3 separate regions of the Homo sapiens genome follow, and regions 1 and 3 are each reported to be linked to region 2. Evidence: microRNA targets listed by miRTarBase, many of them from high-throughput screens and not tested one by one. Region 2 holds a microRNA gene; each other region holds the end of a gene's coding sequence.
The links. Region 2 holds the annotated microRNA hsa-miR-5195-3p (AUCCAGUUCUCUGAGGGGGCU, at 2,234-2,254, opposite strand). A microRNA usually pairs through its seed, bases 2 to 8, with sites in the 3' UTR of a target mRNA and lowers its output. Matches are read on the target gene's strand: a 7mer-m8 pairs with bases 2 to 8, a 7mer-A1 pairs with bases 2 to 7 and ends in A, and an 8mer does both.

Region 1: miRTarBase lists SLC16A5 as a target of hsa-miR-5195-3p. The part of its 3' UTR that is shown has no 7-base or 8-base seed match.
Region 3: miRTarBase lists ZNF445 as a target of hsa-miR-5195-3p. The part of its 3' UTR that is shown has no 7-base or 8-base seed match.

What each region holds. Positions count from the first base shown.
Region 1 is chr17:75,105,668-75,108,667 of GRCh38, reverse strand. It overlaps SLC16A5 (solute carrier family 16 member 5), which reads right to left. Exons shown (of 7, transcript NM_004695.4): 7 at 2,506-2,788. The coding sequence ends at 2,635. Among named protein-coding and RNA genes, the nearest start is that of ARMC7, 2.8 kb to the left of the region's middle. RefSeq lists an enhancer at 2,978-3,000.
Region 2 is chr14:106,848,677-106,852,024 of GRCh38, forward strand. It overlaps MIR5195 (microRNA 5195), which reads right to left and starts at 2,323; the gene lies at 2,209-2,323. The region is part of intron 1 of LOC124903399 (a long non-coding RNA gene); the gene reads left to right. It also overlaps IGH and the pseudogene IGHV5-78.
Region 3 is chr3:44,443,640-44,446,987 of GRCh38, forward strand. It overlaps ZNF445 (zinc finger protein 445), which reads right to left. Exons shown (of 8, transcript NM_181489.6): 8 at 1-3,348. The coding sequence ends at 2,936. Among named protein-coding and RNA genes, the nearest start is that of LINC01988, 17 kb to the left of the region's middle.

The DNA.
Region 1 (3,000 bases), not on the chromosome of region 2:
CATATAGTTTACTATGGCATGGATACTACCATTGCAATGCCCTATGCCCAAATAGATATCATTTTCTTTGAGAGAGCCTCTCTGTTATTTAGGCTGACAAAGGCAAGGACCATTATCTTAAGCCCTGGGCCCGGATGAAGGCAGAGTGGCCGTCACACTCCAGCCAGCTGCAGCCCCATTGGAAGCAGGCCTCACCTCTGAGGTTTCAGGTCCTTGTGGTCAGCCCCTGCCCTATGTACACCCTCTGAGGCAGGAGTTTCTAACTTAGTCTGGGTACCTAGGCCCCAGGACCCTCACCAAAGCCCTTTGGCTTCTCTTGGGAGCCTCTGCAGCCTGGGAAGTGCATCTTACCCCTAGGTGCCCAAGGGGTTTCTCTGCCTCTTGCTGGACAGAGCAGCAAATAGGAGCCCAGAAACAGGGAGGATGGAAGTAAGCTCCATCCCTCCCTGCCCAGGAACTGCCCCAGACCTTCTCTAGAGGTTCGCAGGCAATCAGCTAGATGGGGATTGCTGAATCAGATGGGCCACCCCATCTTCCCTCATTGGTCTTCTCCCTTTTTTTCTTTTTGAGATGGAGTCTCGCTCTGTCGCCAGGCTGGAGTACAGTGGTGCGATCTCGGCTCACTACAACCTCCGCCTCAGATTCAAGTGATTCTCCTGCCTCAGCCTCCCGAGTAGCTGGGATTACAGGCACGCACCACTGCACCCAGCTAATTTTTGTATTTTTTTTCTGAGACAGTGTCTCGCTCTGTCACCCGGGTTGGAGTGCAGTGGTGCGATCTCAGCTCACTGGAAGCTCCGCCTCCCAGGTTCACGCCATTCTCCTGCCTCAGCCTCCTGAATAGCTGGGACTACAGGCACCCGCCACGACGCCCGGCTAATGTTTGTATTTTTAATAGAGACGAGGTTTCACCGTGTTAGCCAGGATGGTCTCGATCTCCTGACCTCGTGATCCACCCGCCTTGGCCTCCCAAAGTGCTGGGATTACAGGCGTGAGCCACTGCGCCCGGCCTAATTTTTGTATTTTTAGCAGAGATGGGGTTTCACCTTGTTGGCCAGGATGGTCTCGATATCTTGACCTCGTGATCCACCTGTCTCAGCCTCCCAAAGTGCTGGGATTACAGGCATGAGCCACCGCACCCAGCCAGTCTTCTCCCTTCTTAAGGCCTCAGGGAGGGGCCCTCCTTGGGGTGGAATTCTCAGCCCTTGGTAGGTCTTACCTCTGCCCAGTCTCTGGCACACAGTAGATACTCAGTAAATATTTATTGAAGGAATTCTGCCCAGAGATGATTGCTATTCTTGCCTAGGAGCAGGTGAGATGAAAGTTTCCTATGCAGAACATTCATTGATACCTTTTTTTTTTTTGGGAAGGGGGGACAAGGTCTCTGTCACCCAGGCTGGAGTGCAGTGGTGTGATCACAGCTTACTGCAACCTTGAGCTTCTTGGCTCAAGGGATCCTCCCACCTCTGCCTCCTGAGTGGCTTGGACTACAGGCCTGTGCCACCATGTCCAGCTAAGTTTTAAATTTTTTGTAGAGATGGAGGTCTCCTTATGTGGCCCAGGGTGGCCTCTCAAGTGATTCTCCCATCTTGGCCTTCCAAAGTGTTGGGATTACAGGCATGATCCACCACACTTGGCTTTTTTTTTTTCCCTTTCCTTAATTTTTCTGTAGAGACAGGGTCTCTATGTTGCCCAGGCTGGTCTTGAAGTCCTGGTCTCAAGCGATCCTCCTGCTCTGACCTCCCAAAGTGTTTTTTTTGTTTGTTTGTTTTTTGAGACGAGTCTCATTCCATCACCCAGGCTGTAGTGCAGTGGCGTGATCCCAGCTCACCACAACCTCTTCCTCTCCAGTTCAAGCAAATTTCCTGCCTCAGCCTCCCAAGTAGCTGGGATTACAGGCGACTGCTACCACGCCTGGCTAATTTTTGTATTTTTAGTAGAGCTGGGGTTTTGCCATGTTGGCCAGGCTGGTCTTGAACTCCTGACCTCTAGTGACCCACCCATCTTGGCCTCTCAAAGTGCTGGGATTACAGGCGTGAGCCACCACACCCAGCCTTTTTTTTTTTTTTTTTTTTAAAAAAAAGACAGGGTCTTGCTGTGTTGCCCAGGCTGGCCTCAAACTCCCAGGTTTGAGTGATCCTCCCACCTCAACCTCCCGAGTAGCTGGGATTACATGTGCGCACTGCCATCTCCAGCTGATATCTTTTTTCTTTAAATGTTTTCAGGAAGTGGGCTCATTACGGGATGCACACAAAACCTGGTGGATACTAGCACCAAAAGCACCTATCTACCAGCCCCACCTCCCTCCTTTTCCATTCAACTGAGATGGAGCAGACAGGATTTGGCAAAGTCCATGCAAGCACTCTCCCTTCAGAGCATGTGGTATTGATGGCAGCCAAGTGTAAGACTGGGTGGGGAGCCAGAAGGAAATGGAGTCGTCAGGATGCTCACCGAGTCAGACTTTTCAACCGGAAGAGACTAGCTCATCCAAACCAACCTCCTACGTTTTCTTTTTTAAAATTAAATTTTATTATTTTGCTCTAACAAAGTAACCTCCTACTTTTTCAAGGCTCAGAGGTGGTCAACAATTTGCCCAACTCACATGGCAGATAGTGGCGGAGTCAAACAGGGCACTCAGGTAGGGCTATTCCAGCCCAGAGCCGTTTGCTTGGCCTGCAGTACCGCCTTTGGCCATAAGAGCCACTCATGGCTGGTCCTGGAGGAGGCAGGACATCCCCAAAGATGCTTATTGACGCCAGCTGGACGTGGCTGGCGGGAAGACTGGCACCTGTTCATGAAAATAAAATCTCCTGATAAGGTTTTCTTGCGGAGCCTGGTTGAGCCTGAATCAACAAACAACATCCTGAACCTGAGCACCCCTTGCTGAGCTAGGAGGAAAGGAAGGGTGAGGGGAAACGTACTCCAGCTCTGTTTGTCAGCTTCATTAGTTCACAGAGTTTATGACCTGCTGCAGGGAACATTTTTGTGTGTAATTCAAAC
Region 2 (3,348 bases):
TAAGACACTCCCGTATCCCAGGATTCCAGCTATTCAGATCAGACAGGCATGTCTTTTCCTCTGTACAAAAGTTGAAGTGTTAAATACAGAGGAATTGTGACTCTGTGTCTGGCCAAAACCTGAACCTGGAGAGTGCTCTTTCTGGGGGATGCAGTCAACATGATGTGTTCCAGAAATGCTGTCTATAGTTGCACCCGTACTGAGCTCTTATGGGAGAGACCCCAAGTGTGCCTGCAGTGGTGTACAAGGGGGAAAGACTTCCTCTTCTTCAAGTTTTTCACATGCACCAGGGATATCTGACTGTTGAGACAGAGCTGAAGACTTTCTCTGCTGAGCTCAGCACTGTAACTGCCTCTACTAAAAGAAGTTTCCCACCAATGGAGGGATCTGATTGATGTTCAAGGCCTGCCATCCAGATTCTCCTGTCCCACAGGGTGTTCCCTCAATGTGGTGCACTCCCTTCCCCTAGGAGCAGGAGAACCTGGGAGCCATACTACTGTGAGTGTTGTTGCTTCTCTAGGTCTAGCCGCCCAGTGAAGTTGACACACTTCAGGCTGGTGTTGGGGAATGTATGTGAGGGATCCGGTGGTGTGATGTGTCCTCAATTTTTCAGCAGTGAGCAGTGAACCAGGTCTGATGGAAGCAGCAGGGGAGTGATGGAGACTGAAATTCCTTAGATATTGATAGCCTTTGTGTACTGGCTTTCTTGAATGCTGGTTATAGCGGTAATGAACTGTTCACATGGACAGACTCAGGACCTCCTGGTCATCCAGAGTGGTGCAGGCACTGGTCATAGCTGAGATCACACAGTCATTTTCTCCTTTCTGGGTGCAGTGATAGTCTACCAGGAGATACTGTGATGGACTGTTTATTGGCTTCCTGCTTGGAGATGGTGCTTTCCAAAGAGCACCAGCTACAGTATTAACAGTGGGGTTTTTGCTTGGCTTATGTTGCCCAGGAATAGGGGCTACTGTGGATTCTCAGGCAGTGGGTGTGGCCATGTATCTCCCAAAAGATGCTGTCCTTTGTGTTAAGCTGCCAGGGCAGATGGCTGCATAAAGCAAGGTGAGGGCTGGGCCAGGTAGGTTTCTGCTCAGAGTATCCTTGTGCAGGGCAAGCAGCAGCCTCTCTGGGTATGGGAGACACAGATAATGGTGAATTCTATTCTTAATCTGCTGTTTAATTTTGTTTGTCATCTCATCACTCTTGAGAGTTTTTGAAACTATGATAATCAGGGATATTGGCCTGTAGTTTTATTTACTTGTAGTGTCTTTTCCTTGCTTTGGAAATAGGGCCTTCCAAAATAAGCTTGGATATATTTCTTTCTCTTTATTTTGTTGGAAATTTGAGTAGAGATTCTAGGTTTTTTTTAATTTTTGATAAAATTCAGTAGTGAAGCCATGAAGTTCTGGACTTTGATTCGAGATGTTGGAAAAATCACTGACTCGATCTCTTTACTCATTGGTCTGTTCAGATTTTTTTTAATTGGAGTCTCACTCTGTTGCTCAGTCTGGAGTGCAGTGGCTCGATTTTGGCTTTCTGCAACCTCTGCCTCCCAGGTTCAAGTCATTCTCCTACCTCAGCCTCCCGAGTAGCCGGGACTATGGGACTGCGGGTGAACACCACCACACCCAGCTAATCTGTGTATTTTTAGTAGAGACGGGGTTTTGCCATGTTGGCCAGGCTGATCTTGAACTCCTGACCTGAGGTGATCCACCCGCATCGGTCTCCCAAAGTGCTGAGAATACACATATGAGCAACCACGCCCAGCCCAGATTTTTTATTTCTTGGTGGTTCAGTTTTGATAGGTTGTATGTCTTTAAAAATTTGTCTATTTATTTTAATTTATTCTTAACCAAACAGGTTCTAAAATATTTGCAAGATTACTCACAGGAAATCTATTTATGACAGAAGTCTTTGTTATATCAAAATATTTACGAATTGGCACAAAGATGAATTATTCAGTGCATATTGTTAAAAGGAAAACAACAACAAAAACAAGATAACTTATTAATGGTACAAAAAGGGGTTAAATGATTTTGGAAAAGTAAGTAGAAAATAAAAGAAGGAGGGAGTAAGAGCGGACAGAAGGGAGGAAGGCAAGCAAGCAATGATGAACTGTGTAAAATTTTCACTAATTAAAAGACTATTATATTGAAGAGGTGCCTATTAGGCAGCCTTTTGATGTTAACCATGTAATATACACCATGAACAACCTTGTAGAACACACAAGAGCCCCCTCAGAGAACTGGATGGGTCAGGTCTCCCATCCAGTTGCCTTAGGGGTTAGGAACGCTCCCATGTTGTTCTCTGGTTTTTGCTCCTGAGGACACAAACAGCCAGTGTTTCCTCCCCGGATGAATAGAGAGGCCCCTGGGGAGGGTGTGTCTGGCAGCTCACTCTGCACCTGCACCGCGGAAGGTTTTAGATGGTCCCTCTCACACAATAATACATGGCGGCGTCCGAGGCCTTCAGGCTGCTCCACTGCAGGTAGGCGGTGCTGCTGGAGCTGTCGGCTGAGATGGTGACGTGGCCTTGGAAGGATGGGCTGTATCTGGTATCAGAGTTCCCAGGATAGATGCTCCCCATCCACTCCAGTTCTTTCCCGGGCATCTGGCGCACCCAGTGGATCCAGTAGCTGGTAAAGCTGTATCCAGAAGTCTTACAGGAGATCCTCAGAGACTCCCCGGGTCTTTTCACCTCTGCTGCAGACTGCAACAGCTGCACCTCGGCAAAGACACCTGTGTGGGAGACACAAAATTTGCATCAGGGGCTCCCTTCTGCCCATTCTTCTCTGTGACCTCAAACCCTGGGCAGGACTGACCTTGGAGAACAGCCAGGACGAGGGAAAGGATGACGGTTGACCCCATCCTGGAGGAGGACAGAAAAGAAAGCACTGAGATCCCAGCTGGGTGGTGAAGGAGACTCACTGTGGAGGAGAGCCCTGGGTTTAAGTGGGGAGGCCCCCACTTGAATTTGCATAGTTGCCGCCCTGGCCTGAAGGGAAGAGTCTACAAGGTTTATAACCCAGAACCGCAACTGCAGAAAAACGGCTGAACTGAGCCTCTTGGGAGAGGCAGAATAAGGTCTTAATAATGTCTTACAACCCCCTGTTGTCCCTCCGCACTCTTGTCCATGGTCCTACAAGACCCAAACCAGGGCCTCCCTTCTTCCTACCCTTCTCTGTGACCCTGTGAAGGTGATAAATCTAGATGAAATCACGTGTGTTTTAAAAAATGAGAAATAGAACCAGGAAATGCTATGAAGACAAAATTCAAATGCACATATGCCTGATAATAAGAACTACAAAAAAAAAAAAAACACCTAGTTTCTACTTGCTGGCAATTT
Region 3 (3,348 bases), not on the chromosome of region 2:
CAGCTACTGAGGAGGCTGAGGCAGGAGAATGGTGTGAGCCCAGGAGGCAGAGCTTGCAGTGAGCGGAGATCGCGCCACTGCACTCTAGCCTGGGTAACAGAGTGAGACTCCGTATCAAAAAAAAAAAAAAATTCAGTTTTTCACTTCATTCTTTGCACATTTTAAAATTTGATTAGAATGTTTAGAAATAAGCACATTTCATTCTATAAAAATGACAGGTCAGGCACAGTGGCTCACGCCTGTAATCCCAGCACTTTGGGAGGCAGAGGTGGGTGGATTGCTTGAGCCCAGGAGTTTGAGACCAGCATGAGCAACATGGGAAAAAAAAATAAAAGTTTTGTCTCTACAAAAAAATATAAAAAATTAGCTGGCAGGGTGGCACACACCTGTAGCCCCAGCTACTCGGGAGGCTCAGATGGGACCTGAGCCTGGGAGGTCAAGGCTGCAGTAAGCTGTGATCCTGCCACTGCACTCCACCCTGGGCAACCCTGTCTCAAAAAATAAAAAAGACAGTAAAAATATCCCTATACTGGGGCAGGAACTTTACAAGGTATCCTGTGGCAAAGGGAGCAGAGATGGGGGGAAAGGGGTGCTAAAAGTTTGATTGGAAAGGGACTTTTCCATGGTTACAACACCAACTGACATGGAAGCTGCACCTCTGAGAGGGCCCTGGTCCTAGAGGTCAACCACCTGATGGAGAGCCTTGGTAAACCAAGCCCTCTTTCACCAATCTCAGGAATCAGGTAGCACAGCCAAGCACTCTAACTTCACACATAAGGAAATTGATGCAGAGGTTCATTGACTTGCTCAAGATCAATCCTGCCAAGAAAAGGCACACCATGCCTGGAACCCAGATCTGATGACTCCAAGACCCTTCCTATGACTCTGGCCCCCCTGCCCAGCCACTTCTAGTGCCAGTTTTGGGACAGTGAAGGGACATCTTCAGTGCCATGAACAGCTGCTGCCGTAGGAAGGCAAGAGGATGGCAGAACCAAGATGACCAAACCTTCCTGAGGACAAAGCTGAACAGGCATCAGAACACCAACAGGAGACTTCTGCCCCGCCCCCACCATCCTGTGACACCACCACACAATATCAGAGCCTTCATTTTCACCTGCTCATGGCAATCCAGAGCAGGTAAGATTATTCCATACTCTACTGAAAAAGACATCTTCCAGGTTGGTTTCTTCTCATTTCAAGAAATGACCAGCTCCATGAACGGGCCCCTATAGTCAGGACACTGCTCTACTATTAAAACATTTTATCCTTTCATTCATAATCTGACCTCTTCAATAATCAGAAGCAATGATTACTCACATGCTTTAGCAATATCACTCCTTTGCCTTTAAGTAATTGATTCTTGCTTTTTGCTTCAACACAAGTGGGTGGGCCAGTGAGGGAGCTCCTCCCAGAACAGGCTGCCTTTTCTCCTGAGAGCAGCAGGCACATGCACTTGTTCCTTCGGGTTGAATCTGATTGCTAGCACCAGATCTCATACATGGAGAGGGGTATGTGAAGCTGAGAGGGGCCTGCAGTGTGCAGGGGCTAGAGACATGAACACAACAATGGTAAGCGTTTATATCTGCTGAGGCCGAGGATCCTATAGAAAATTCAGAAACGGAGTGGGGAGGAGTCTGATTTATGGGAACTGGCAGCAAGGCTAACTGCATGAGAAGCCTTTCACCCTTTTACTGAGTCCTTGGATCTGTGGTTAACCCTTATAAAATATAATTCAGATTCAAACCACATCACTCCTCAACTCAAAATTGTCCAAAAGCTCCCTGCCTCCCTCTGAGCCAGCTCAAGCCCCCGTAATGACCCATGATGCTCATATGGCCGGGCCTGTGGCCTCCCTGGCCCCTCTCCTTCCCTTCCAGCTGGCTCCCTGCACTCCATCCCAGGGGCTTCCTTCCTGAGGACACCAGTCAAGACCCAATCTCCTCTGCCTGCAACTCTCCCTAGAGAGCTACCTGCTACCTCCCTGGCTTCCTTCACGTCTTTGCTCACATTTCACCTTCTCAGTTGAGGCCCTCCCTGACCAGACTATCTAAAATCACGACTGATCTCCCAATCCAGCACTCCCTCTGCTCTTCTCTGATTCACTTTGTCCACTACACACATCACCATCCAGAATACTGCGTATCCCATTTGTTTGTCATCTGTAAAGATCCAAGATGGCAGGATTTTCATCTGTTCTGGTCCCTGCTGGGTCTCTGGCAAACACACCAGCGCCTGGTGTATGGGAGTGCTCAGCACATTTCTGTTAAACAGATGGACCGCTGCTGCCTATGCAGGCCTGTGGGATGGGGATGGCAACAGGGTACTGGTAGAGATCCACACGCCAAGCGCTTGAGCCCAGCATCCTGCTCTCCTCCACCTGCCGCTGAGACCACTCTAACCCCCTAGCAGATATCCAAAAGCCAGCCAGGAAGGCTGAAGCCCCAGCCAGAACTCCCCAGGGGGCATTTGGGAAGGCTAGGAGTTCTTGATGCTGCTGCTTTTAAAGTCAACAGAATAGGCATGGCCACAGGCCAAACTTGAAGACAAATCTAGGATCCCACTGGCCCCTTTCCAGCAGCCATAGCCCATGATGCCACAGATATTCTGTCCAACCACAAAGGGCAGTGGTCTCTCTCTTCAGAGTTGTGGAAGGAGACCTGAATAGGGGAGCCGCAGGCTATGGTGCAGAGGCCACTCCTAGGGGCCGGAGTCTCCAGAAGGGCTCCAAAGGACATGGTGCTGCACTTCCCCAGCGTCACATCCTAGCAGGCAGGCTGGGGACTCCCCGAGCTTTCAAATCCTTGGGATTCTGTCACTAGCTTCCAAAACAGAAAGGGCTGGGCCCTTTATCAAAGTTACTCCACAATGCCTATAATTAAGGGTTCTCTAGCAGGGGACTGAGAACCCACCCCCACTGTCACTGTCAGGTCCCAGGCTAATCTCTAATATGGTTTTTCATATGCCGAGCCAGGTTCGAAGACCACCTGAAGGTCTTTCCACACTTGCTGCATTTGAAGGGCCTCTCTCGAGTATGAAATCTCTTGTGGCTAATGAGTTGTGAACTCTTGTTAAAAGTTTTCCCACATATGCTGCATTTGTGGCACTTTTTCCCAATGCTTATGTCCTGGAGTCCAGTGAGCCTGGAGCTCTGGCTGCAAGCTTCTTTGCAGTCTTCGAGGGGCATCTCTTCACTTGGTTTTAGCTTCTGTAATCTCAACTTTGTGTCCTGAGAGGAAGACCGTGCAGGCGGGCTACGTTCAGCCTGTGCTGCTCTGGTGTGTTTCCTCTGGTGACTGGAAAGGGTATGTCTCCCAATGAACTCTTTCCCACACCACTGACATTTGAAAG